2 separate regions of the Homo sapiens genome follow, and region 2 is reported to be linked to region 1. The links are microRNA targets in miRTarBase. Many come from high-throughput screens and were not tested one by one. Region 1 holds a microRNA gene; the other region holds the end of a gene's coding sequence.

Region 1 (5,172 bases):
TGGGGAGATCTGAGCCCTGACGAGGGCAGGCCTCGTGGGACAGCAGCCCTCCCTGCAGGCCTCCACCTGCCCACCCCCAGGGGCGCTGAGGCGAGAACAGAAAGCTGTGTTTGGAGTGTGCTAGGCTGGTGCCCAGCGTGTGCTTGGAGCTCAGTGCATGCGAGAGAGTCCTGAGGTGTGTTTTACCCACAGGAGACACTGGGGAGGTGGTATCAGCCATTCTAGTCAAGCCAAGTCCCCAGTGCCCTCCTCCCCTATGGCCCAGGCGGGTGCAGAACACAGAAGACTACACGCAGTTGGTGCTTTCACAGGCCAGCCTGTCTGCACCAGGCAGATTGATGAGTTAAGAGATGTTTGGATGTTCCGGGCCTTTCTCCACCTGCTCACCTGTAGCCCCAGCACATCACAGTTGTGGGGACAGCCGGGGGCCGGGGGAAACTTTTTCTTTTCCTTCATGCCTGTTATACCTTGCACACCATTCCCCACCCCAGCTCCACCATGCCCCTTGCCTACCCCTTGCACCCTGACCCCTAACATGCTCTAGCCACAGCAAACTGGCACCACACATGCTCCTAACTCTAGGCCTTTGCCTGCGCCGTGTCAGCCTGGGACATCCTCCCAAATTCCCTGTGCTTGGCCAGCTCACCTCTCACCTTCCTCCTGCCCCTCGCCCAAGACAGTTCTAGACGCTGCTCCTTGGGGTTCCTGCAACGATCCCTTGTCCCCAGCGGGGCACTTGCTGCTCTACTGTGGGGGGTGATTATCCCGCCAGACACCGAGAGGGGCAGTTGTGTGCACTGTTTACACCTGGGTCCCAGACCCTGTCCAGAGCCGGGCACAGAAGTGTTTGGTGAATGGAGAAATGAGCCATCAAATGGGGCTTGGGTTAGCCCCCTGTTCTCTTCCACCCAGGCCTTTGCTGGTGTTTGCAGCTAGTTTCTCCTCCTCTGGGTTCCAGGGCGCCTCTGGCCATAGGACTTTTATGACACCGATCTCGTGCTGCCCCCAGTGGTGCTCCGGCACCCAGCCCTGTTAGAGGAGTTTAGGATTTGTTCTAAGGGCCATCCACTGTCTGAGGGCAGGAACCAAAACTGATTTTTTTTTTGGTTCACAAGGCCCAAAACAGAAGAGATGCTTGGTAAATGTTTAAACAATGAACTAGTTACTCTGAAAGGTGAGATTCGTATGAACTCTGCAGCTGGAAAATGACCCAACTCATGGGACATCTCTCACCATTCCTCAGTCAATACCAGTAATAATAGTAACTGACAATACTTACTATGCACCGGCCATGCTCCAGCCTCTGTTCTAAGTGTTTGCCTCATTTATTTAAAACTCGCCACCACCCAGAGAGGGAGGAACTGTTACCATCTTCTCTTCAATAGATGAAGCAACTAGGAGACCCAGAAATTGAGTAATTTGCATGAGGCTGGGTTGGCTCCAGAATCTGTGTCCTTAATTAATCACCCTCCTGCCTCTTTGCCTAAACAACAGCAACAATATTAGTGGTAATGAAAGTAGTCATAGTAGTAGCAATATATTTACTTCATTATTTATTTTAATTTTGTTATTATTACCAGTATTTACCATTAAACATATGTGTGTATGTTTAAGATATATTTAATGGTAAATACAGATAATAATACATACACAAGAAATATACACACACACATTTATAAACAAACAAGCTAAACATTTATATATATATATATATATATATATATATATATATATATATATATATAAGCTAGACTATATATGTGTGTATATATGTACCGTTTACTGTGGGCTGTCACAGTTCTAAGCATCTAAGCACTCCAGATACATTCATTAATTTAATCCTCCAGCCACCTTAAGATGTTAGACACTATTATCCTCATTTAACAAATGAGGAAACTCATTTGATGAAATGAGTACAGAGAGGTTAAACAACTTGTACAGGGTCCCCAGTTGGTAAGGGATGCAGCGGGGATTCAAACCCTGGGAGTCTGGTTTCGGAATCTGCACCCTTAAATATGCCAAAGATTCAGACCTCTGGCCAGGGAGTTGGGGCCAGCCTCTCTGGCCCGAGGGCACGCCCACTCACAGAGGACATGAAGACAAAGCATAGACTATCTGAGTGGGCTTGCTGGACTGACCCAGAGTCAAGCCAAAAAGGAAGGAAGCCCTATTGGGTTTTCTGCTAGCCCCTGCCAGCCTATGTGACCTTGAGAAAGTTGCTTGGTGTCTCTGTCCACTGATCTTCTGTTCAGTGTAATGGGGCAAGGTGGATGGGCTTTGACAGGAGTTGTGATGAGTAAGGAGCTTAGCTTCTCTGCCTGGAAGGAGCAAGGGGAACTCTGGTTCCTCTCCCACCTCCCTCCAGGTTGGCTGTTGCATTACGGGAGGACCCCCCCCCCACACACACACAGCTTCTCTAGGGCTGTTTCCTCTAGGTGGGACAGCCCCTGCAGGGCTTGAGGGTGGGCAGCACCAGGTATCTGCTGACTGTCCCTCCTCTCCTGCTGGCCGGATGGGACAGGAGGCATGAATGAGCCATCTTTCCAATGCCTTTCTGTCTTTTCTGGTCCAGGTGTGGCAAAGGGAAGCTGGAAGATGGGGATGGCATCAACCTGAATGACATCGAGAAGGTCCTTCCAGCCTGGCAGGTAGGTGCAGGGGCAGGCTCTCTAACAGCCCACCCCCACCCCTGGAGTCCTGATCCTCTTCCTGGACAGGACCTAACCAAAGCACTCCTTCTGGCTGCTTGTTCCAGCAAGGAGTGTAACCGCCTGTATGGTAGTAATAGGCAGGGCTGGCTACCTGCCATTCTCCAGGGTGTCCCATTGTGATCGTGTGTGTGACAGCCTACTCGGTGATGCTGCAGGCCCTGCTGGCAGGCCTGATGTGCCCTAGAGATGAAATAGACCATGCCCTGGCAACTCAGTGAACTTGGAAGTTTTTGTCCCTTGGCCTGAAACCTCTCTGCAGGTGAAGTGTCCTGTGGTGTGTTCAGGTGGGACTGGCAGGCCTGGAAGAGATTCTAATGTGGCTGGGGCTGTCTTTAGGCTTTTGAACAGTGGACTTGCCCTGCTGGCCTCCAGGTGTCTGCTATGCTTGCTCTTTTTTTTATTGATTGGGCCTCTTTCCTGGAATCAGGCCAGGTTCCAGGACAAAGAGGATTCACTCAGTGAATCCAGGTCTCTAGATACTTATAGTGCTGGACTTTTGGTGGAAACAGCAGGAGTCTAGCTGCTCTCAGGAGTGTGACTGGGCCTGCTGCAGGGGTGTAAAAGCAGTGGACCTTCCACAGTGACTGAGTCTGCCGCTGCCAGTGACCATGACCTACCACCACACTCCACTGTGCCACCCTTCCCTTCTCTCCTGATTCTTCTCCTGCTATTTTATCTATATCCATTCATCTCTTCCTGGTGCCTTTGCCATTTTGTTTCTTCTCTGTTCATGCCTTGGGCCTATCAATGAGAGACAATAGAGCATACAGTTAAGACCTCATCTATTTGATTATGATGTGCCTTGGTGTGGTGGTTTTCTTCATGTTTCTCCCACTTGGGATTTATTGAGTTTCTTGGATCTGTAGGTTTATAGTTTCATCAAATTTGGAAAATTTTCAGCCACGATTCCTCCTACTTTCCCTCAACCCTGGGGTTCCAATTGTATGTATTCTATGCTTCTTCATCTTTTCCCATGGCTCACCAAAGCTCTGCCTGATTTTTTAAAGTCTTTCTTTACTCTCTGTGTTTCATTTTGGATAGCTTTTATTGCTATTTCTTCAAGTTCACTAATATTTTATTCCAGTGTCAAATCTACTGTTAATCCCATTCAGTATATTTTTCATTTCAGACATTGTAGTTTTTATCTCTCGAAGGTCATTGTGGGCTTTTTTAATAAGCCACTGTGTCCAGCTAGAATCTGCATTTTTAAAGCATTGTAGGAAATTCTGATTATCAGCAAGAGTTGAAAACTTAAAGTCCTGGCTGATAATGCTCCTGGCTTGACTGCTCCTTGGAGTATCTACAATTCACATGGGTACCCTTAGGACAAGGTAGACAGGCTTCTTGATCCCCAAACACAGACTTTTGGTGTTTGAGGAATTTGCGGTCCTGTGAGAGCACAATGGGATGACTTATCTGAGTTTTCCTAGTGTTCTTCAAAGCCCCTCATAAATAGGGCTGGCTGGTTCACTCGTCTGGCCTTGGGTCCTGAGGGTCAGCTGGCCTAGCTATTAGCATATGTGGTGGGGACAACTCTTAATAGTATGGACGTGTCCAATGCAATGTGGGATATTTAGGACTCCTGGCCTCTGCCACTGAATGGCCGTCACTGGAGAGGGGCAGGCATAGTGACCACCAAAAACATCCTCCTACTTCCAGATTCACCTAGGAGATATTGTGCATCCAGCTGAAGGCCCCCAAATGGGAGGGAAAGCCCACCTCTAGCCTGAGGACCTCCAGCCCTCCTATGGGAGTCTTGAGCCTGTACATAGATAAGCGGGCTTCCTAGAGACTTTCTTAGACAAAAATCAGGGCTGGCCTCCCCTCCCTACCTGGAGGCAAGAAGGAAAGAGGGTGACAAAGGGAGGTTGGCCTCAAGCCCATTGCCTACCTGCCCTCCACTTCTGCACCCCAGAAGAAGAGGGGCATAAAGATCCTACCAGCTGTGTCCCCAGCATGTTCTCAACCCACAGAGGCCCAGACCCCCATCTCCGGCCCCTTCTGTCCCTGTTCGGACTCCTTAGCAGGCAGGAGGCTTTGTGATGTTCTCAGCACCCTTGCCCAGCCTCTGTCCTGGGCTCCCCCTGCCATCCTGTGGCCCTGTCAGTCCCTCCCCTGATCTGTTCTGATCTTCCATCTCTCCTTGCTTTCTCACCAGCAGGCGGTTCCCTCTGCCTAAAATCTCACTCAGCCCTTCTCTGCCTGTCCTTTTTCTGGCTCAGGATACCTCCCCTGATCCCTCTCAGATGCACAGGATGGAGTCCAGCATCCACCTGCCATTTCCCCAGAGCCCCTGCCCCCATCTCTGTGGCATGGCTCCCACCACGTCGCACCTGCTTACATAACTGCCAGACTCCCTTCCTGGACTCTGGGCTGCCTGAGGGCTGGGCCATTTCCTTCAGCCTCATAACCCCAGCACCAGGTGCTCTAGAGTGAGTGCTGCTGAAGAACCTCCTTTCTA
Region 2 (5,000 bases), not on the chromosome of region 1:
GACCCTTGACCTCTGACCCTGACCCACACTCAAGCCGAGCTGTACAGGAGGGCAGTCTCAGATTCCAGGCCTAGGGACCCTGTGGCCTCTGCCTGATAGGGGAGAGGGATGCCCCATCTCCCAGTGTCCCTGCTCTGCCTCCTGGGGCATGGGTGGGGCTGCCTCATGCCCTCCCCACAGCCCTACCCTGAGCCCCCTCCCCACAGAAATGCTGATGGCTACATCGACCTGGATGAGCTGAAGATAATGCTGCAGGCTACAGGCGAGACCATCACGGAGGACGACATCGAGGAGCTCATGAAGGACGGAGACAAGAACAACGACGGCCGCATCGACTATGATGGTAAGCGGGTGGGTGGGCTGATCTCCTGCCTCCATGCCCTGCCCAGCCCCTACCCTCAACCCACACCTGCCCCTCTTTCCACAGAGTTCCTGGAGTTCATGAAGGGTGTGGAGTAGATGCTGACCTTCACCCAGAGCTGCCTATGCCCAGCCTCCAACTCCAGCTGAGTCCTGGGGTTGGGGAGGGGGTCGGGGTCCCAGGACCTGAGCCTGGCCATGTCCTCAACCCCAAATCCCCCGACTCCCTCCCCAGATCTGTCCTGGGGGATGCAAATAAAGCCTGCTCTCCCAAGGTCTGCTATCTGGCTCTGGTGTCCCTGGGCCGTGGACTCATCCCCAGGACCCACTCTTACCCAATGGCCGCTTCCTTCCCTGTCCTAGGCAGGCTGGCTGCAGAGCCTGGCGCCTGACCACCGCTCCACACTGCCTTCTGCAGGGGGGTGAGATGAGATCGGAGACTGCCGTGTGGCCTGCCCTGCTTGCTGCCCTCTATCACTCCTCAGGCCCAGGCACCATCTCTAGGGATTCAGCATCTGGAGTCTGTGGGGGCCTAGAACCCCCACAAGTTCCTGGGGGCCATCACTTTGGTCAACCACTGTGGCAGCCTAGGGGTCCTCTACTTGGAGAGAGTGGTTCACTGTGGTACACAGCCAGGCCCTTGGATGCTCCCTGGCACAGCAACCCCTGTTACCTCTCAGCCGTGGCTGGAATGGAGCTGAGCCTGTGGGGTCCCTGCAGGCTCACAGTGCTAGTCCACCCGCCCACTTGCTTGTATTTCCTGCCAGCAACATTGACTCCCAGGGACAGAGGGGCATGGAGTCGGCTCTATCTCCCCTCACCTGTTTGGCCCAGAGAGGTGCAGGGACCTGTCAAGGTCATCCAGTGAGTGTGGGGGAGAGCAGAGCCAACTGGCTTCCAGCCAAGGGCCCTGTCGGATGGGCCACATCCAAATGGACATGATTTCCAGTTCCCGTGAACCTCAGAGGCTCATCTCTTGTGGCCCAGTCTCTCTCCCTGGCAGGGATGGAGGCCCAAGGCCTGGCAGCTCTCAGCTTAGTGGGAGCACCCAGTCCAGAGCTGCCGCCAGACAGTGATGCTGTCTTGGAGGCGTGGGCGTTGGGGGCTGCAAGGAAGTGGAAGTGTCAGCAGAGGTGTTCGCAGGAGGGACAGCTGCCAGCAGCACCCAGGCTGTAGCCAGAATGCCGTCAGCTGACCTTGCCCCGCCCAGCCACTCCACTCTCTCTGCACCTGTGCCCCAGCCTTGGCATTCCCCAGACAGGCCTGGCATTCCAGAGATGGTCTTGGAATTCTAAAAATGCCTCTGATGGAGGCCAGCGCTAGCAAGAGCTTTCTGGTCCCTGGAGAGACCTGAGGGGAGCAGAGAGGAGTCCCTTCAGGCCTGCCCTTGTGAGCTGGAGAATTGGGGACCTCTACAGACACCCAGAGTGACCCAGGAAGGGTGACATCCGAGGATAAAAGGAAGCGCCACATCGGGCAGCACCAGCAGCCGGTGCACCACCCAGTGGTTCACTCACACACCCACCACGCGCACAGCACAGGGCTGGATCCTGGGGCATGTCACAGTGAGGCCCAGTCCCTAATCTGGTGGATTTTTTTTTTCTTTTTTTTTGAGACGGAGTCTCACTCTGTCACCCAGGCTGGAGTGCAGTGGTGCGATCTCAGCTCACTGCAAGCTCTGCCTCCCAGATTCACGCCATTCTCCTGCCTCAGCCTCCTGAGTAGCTGGGACTACAGGCGCCCGCCACCACACCCAGCTAATTTTTTGTATTTTTACTAGAGATGGGGTTTCACCGTGTTAGCCAGGATGGTCTCAATCTCCTGACCTCGTGATCCACCTGCCTCGGCCTTCCAAAGTGCTAGGATTACAGGCGTGAGCCACCGCGCCCGGCCTTTTTCTTTTTTTGAGACAGAGTCTCGCTGTGTCACCAGACTGGAGCGCAGTGGCACAATCTCGGCTCACTGTAACCCCTGCCTCCCAGGTTCAAGCGATCCTCGTGCCTCAGCCACCCAAGTAGCTGGGATTACAGGCACCTGCCACCACACCCGGCTAATATTTGTATTTTTAGTAGAGACAAGGTTTCACCATGTTTCCCAGGCTAGACTTGACCTCCTGAGCTCAAGTGATTCGCCCACCTTGGCCTCCCGAAGTGCTGGGATTACAGGTGTGAGCCACCGTGCCCGGCCTAATCTGGTGGAATTTTAAGGAGATGAGTACAGTGGGAAAGCCAGCGTGGGCTGGAGTGGGGACTGGAGGCATGGTGGGCCCATGAGTTACAGTGGTCTGGGAAAGCTCCCTAGAGGAGCTGACTCTGCATGAGATCTGGGGGAACCACAGGGAACCAGCCATGGGAGGCCATGGAGAAAGACTGGGAAGGTCTCAGGAGCAGAAAGGCAGTGTTGGGCTGGAAACCAAGCCCCAGCAGTCTTGGGAGACATGGGCAGTGCCAGGCCCCATGAGGACCCAGTCAATGTAAGGGGTGATGGCTGCAGAGGGCAAAAGGGGTGGGAGAGACGGAGCTAGGAGCTGGCCTGAAGTGGCGGCAGGCTTTGGGCAAGAAAGCCCGGTGGCTTCCAGTACAGTGGGGTGCTGGGGAGAGTGGGCAGGGGTACATGGATTCAAGGCACATTTTGGAACTAGAATGGACAGAGTTTGCTGAAGGCTTGAATGTGAAGGGTGAGAAATAAGAAAATCCAAAATGACCCTTAGCTTTTTGGCCAAACTGCCATTTCCTGAGATATGGAAGCTGGGAGGAGACACAGGTTCAGCCGTGGGGTATTGGGAAGTGGAGCTTACTTCCCAACACTAGGTTTTAGTGGGGTTTTTTGCTTTTTTTCTTTTCATTTTGAAATTCCAGGCTTGCAAAAATAGTACAAAGAACTCCCATTTACAGGTACCCTAGCTTCCCTAAATGTTAACATTTTAACCACAGAAGGATCAAACACAGGAAATGAATATTGACATAAACACTGCTAATTAATCTGCACAGCTTATTGAAGTTCTGTCAGTTGTCCTAAAGTCCTTGTCCTGGAGCAGGAACCAATCCAAGATGGCACTAACGTGACCTCGTCCTCCTGTCTCCTTACTCCCCACCAGCCTGTGACGGTCCTCAGTGTTTCCTCATCACCTCTGAAGAGCTGAGGCCAGTTATTCTGTAGAATCTCACTCACTTTGGGTTTGTCTGGTGGCCCCAGGGTTTGGGAACTTGCAGGCCCCCAGGCCTCAGCCGCCTGAGCAGGAGGGTTTCCGTGGAGCAGAGGGGTGGGAGCCTGACAGGAGTGAGCTGAAGTACAGGGGAGATGGTGGGTGTGGGCAACACCCAGGGAACAGAGAAAGGGACCCAAGCTGAGAAGCGATATGGGGTCCAGGGAAGCTCAGACAAGGGCCACGTGTGCTCGGGTTGAAGGGAGTGAGGATTGTCAGGAAGGGGCAGTGGGGGAAGGAGGGCTCTGCCACGTCCTGGCTCTCTTTTCATCAGCTGTGGTGGGGAGGGGGACAGGTCCTGGGACAGGAGGAGGAGATGAATGGCCCTGCTTGCAGATGGAAGCCCCAGAAGATACTGTAGGAGGGTTGGGGTGGGGCGGGAGGAGCTGTGAGGGATGGCTGATGGGAAGTGGGGGGGCTCACCCTCTGCAAGCAGCTGGAGGTCCGTGGGGGTGGAGGGGGCATGGCATTGTCCTAATATCCCTGTTCCATCCATGAAATTGGTGGGGAGGGGACTGGGGGCATCCATTCCTTCCAGGCATGCCCACCCCAGAATTCTGGCTGGGAGAGGCTGGGCTGTGACCCTCCACATATCCACCTGGTGGCACCTGCTGCATGAACACGCACTTCACATAGGTATCAGCCCAGCTCACCATCTCCCACCAGTACATGGCATTTTGTATCCTTCATGCATCACCTAGTTTTGCCTGTTTTGCTGCATCCTTTCCATTTCTGGGCTTTTGCTTGGATAGTGCTTCCTCCATGAAGCCTCCCTTGATTTCCTCCATCAAGAGCAATCACTGGAGCATCTTCCACTGCTCCTGCTTCTTTATATTGTGTTTGCCTGGTTACTGCTAGCGTCCTCAAGAGGCTGCTGTTTCTGCTGGGTGGCCCTGCTACCCCAACACAGGGCCTGACACAGCGAGTTTGGGGGCCTCCTGCAGTTCCTTCTTTGTCCACTAGATGACACACGATGCCCGTGTCTGGGCCCATTGATCCTCGAATTCGGAGCACCCTTGTGGTCTTTCCCACCTGCAGCTGGCAAGCAGGGGGGCCTTTAGAGACGATCCCTACCCTCTGCCCCCAGGCCTGGAAAACTGAAGCCCAGAGAAGGAGAGGACCTGACTGAGGCCACACACATTAACAGTAGAGTTCGGACTCCCAGCCTGCCACAGGCTCTTTCCGCAGTGTGGAGTAGGCTGCCCCCACACCCTTCCCCAGTCGACCCAGGCTTCCCTGCAGCCCCTGCTGGGTGTCTGGCTGAGCTGAGACCCCAGGATGGGCTGGCAGGCTGAGGAGTGTTGGGCCTCCTGCCCGCCGCTGGTGGTCACATGCTGGCTGAAGGGCTGCCTAGCTCAGTCTCCAGTTAGAAGTTGGCCCCAGCTTGGGCAGTGTGCTGGCCACACCTCCCCAGGGAAACAGAGACAGAAGCAGT

What was found. The annotated mature microRNA hsa-miR-4743-3p reads UUUCUGUCUUUUCUGGUCCAG and lies in region 1 at 2,552-2,572, shown strand. An mRNA with a match to its seed (bases 2 to 7 or 8) in the 3' UTR can be bound and repressed. Matches are read on the target gene's strand: a 7mer-m8 pairs with bases 2 to 8, a 7mer-A1 pairs with bases 2 to 7 and ends in A, and an 8mer does both.
Region 2: miRTarBase lists TNNC1 as a target of hsa-miR-4743-3p. The part of its 3' UTR that is shown has no 7-base or 8-base seed match.

Annotation. Positions count from the first base shown.
Region 1 is chr18:48,668,097-48,673,268 of GRCh38, forward strand. MIR4743 (microRNA 4743) reads left to right here and starts at 2,504; the gene lies at 2,504-2,572. CTIF (cap binding complex dependent translation initiation factor) reads left to right here. Exons shown (of 12, transcript NM_014772.3): 6 at 2,573-2,648.
Region 2 is chr3:52,446,734-52,451,733 of GRCh38, reverse strand. It overlaps TNNC1 (troponin C1, slow skeletal and cardiac type), which reads left to right. Exons shown (of 6, transcript NM_003280.3): 5 at 207-343; 6 at 428-634. The coding sequence ends at 459. Among named protein-coding and RNA genes, the nearest start is that of SEMA3G, 4.1 kb to the right of the region's middle. RefSeq lists a silencer at 1,427-1,721.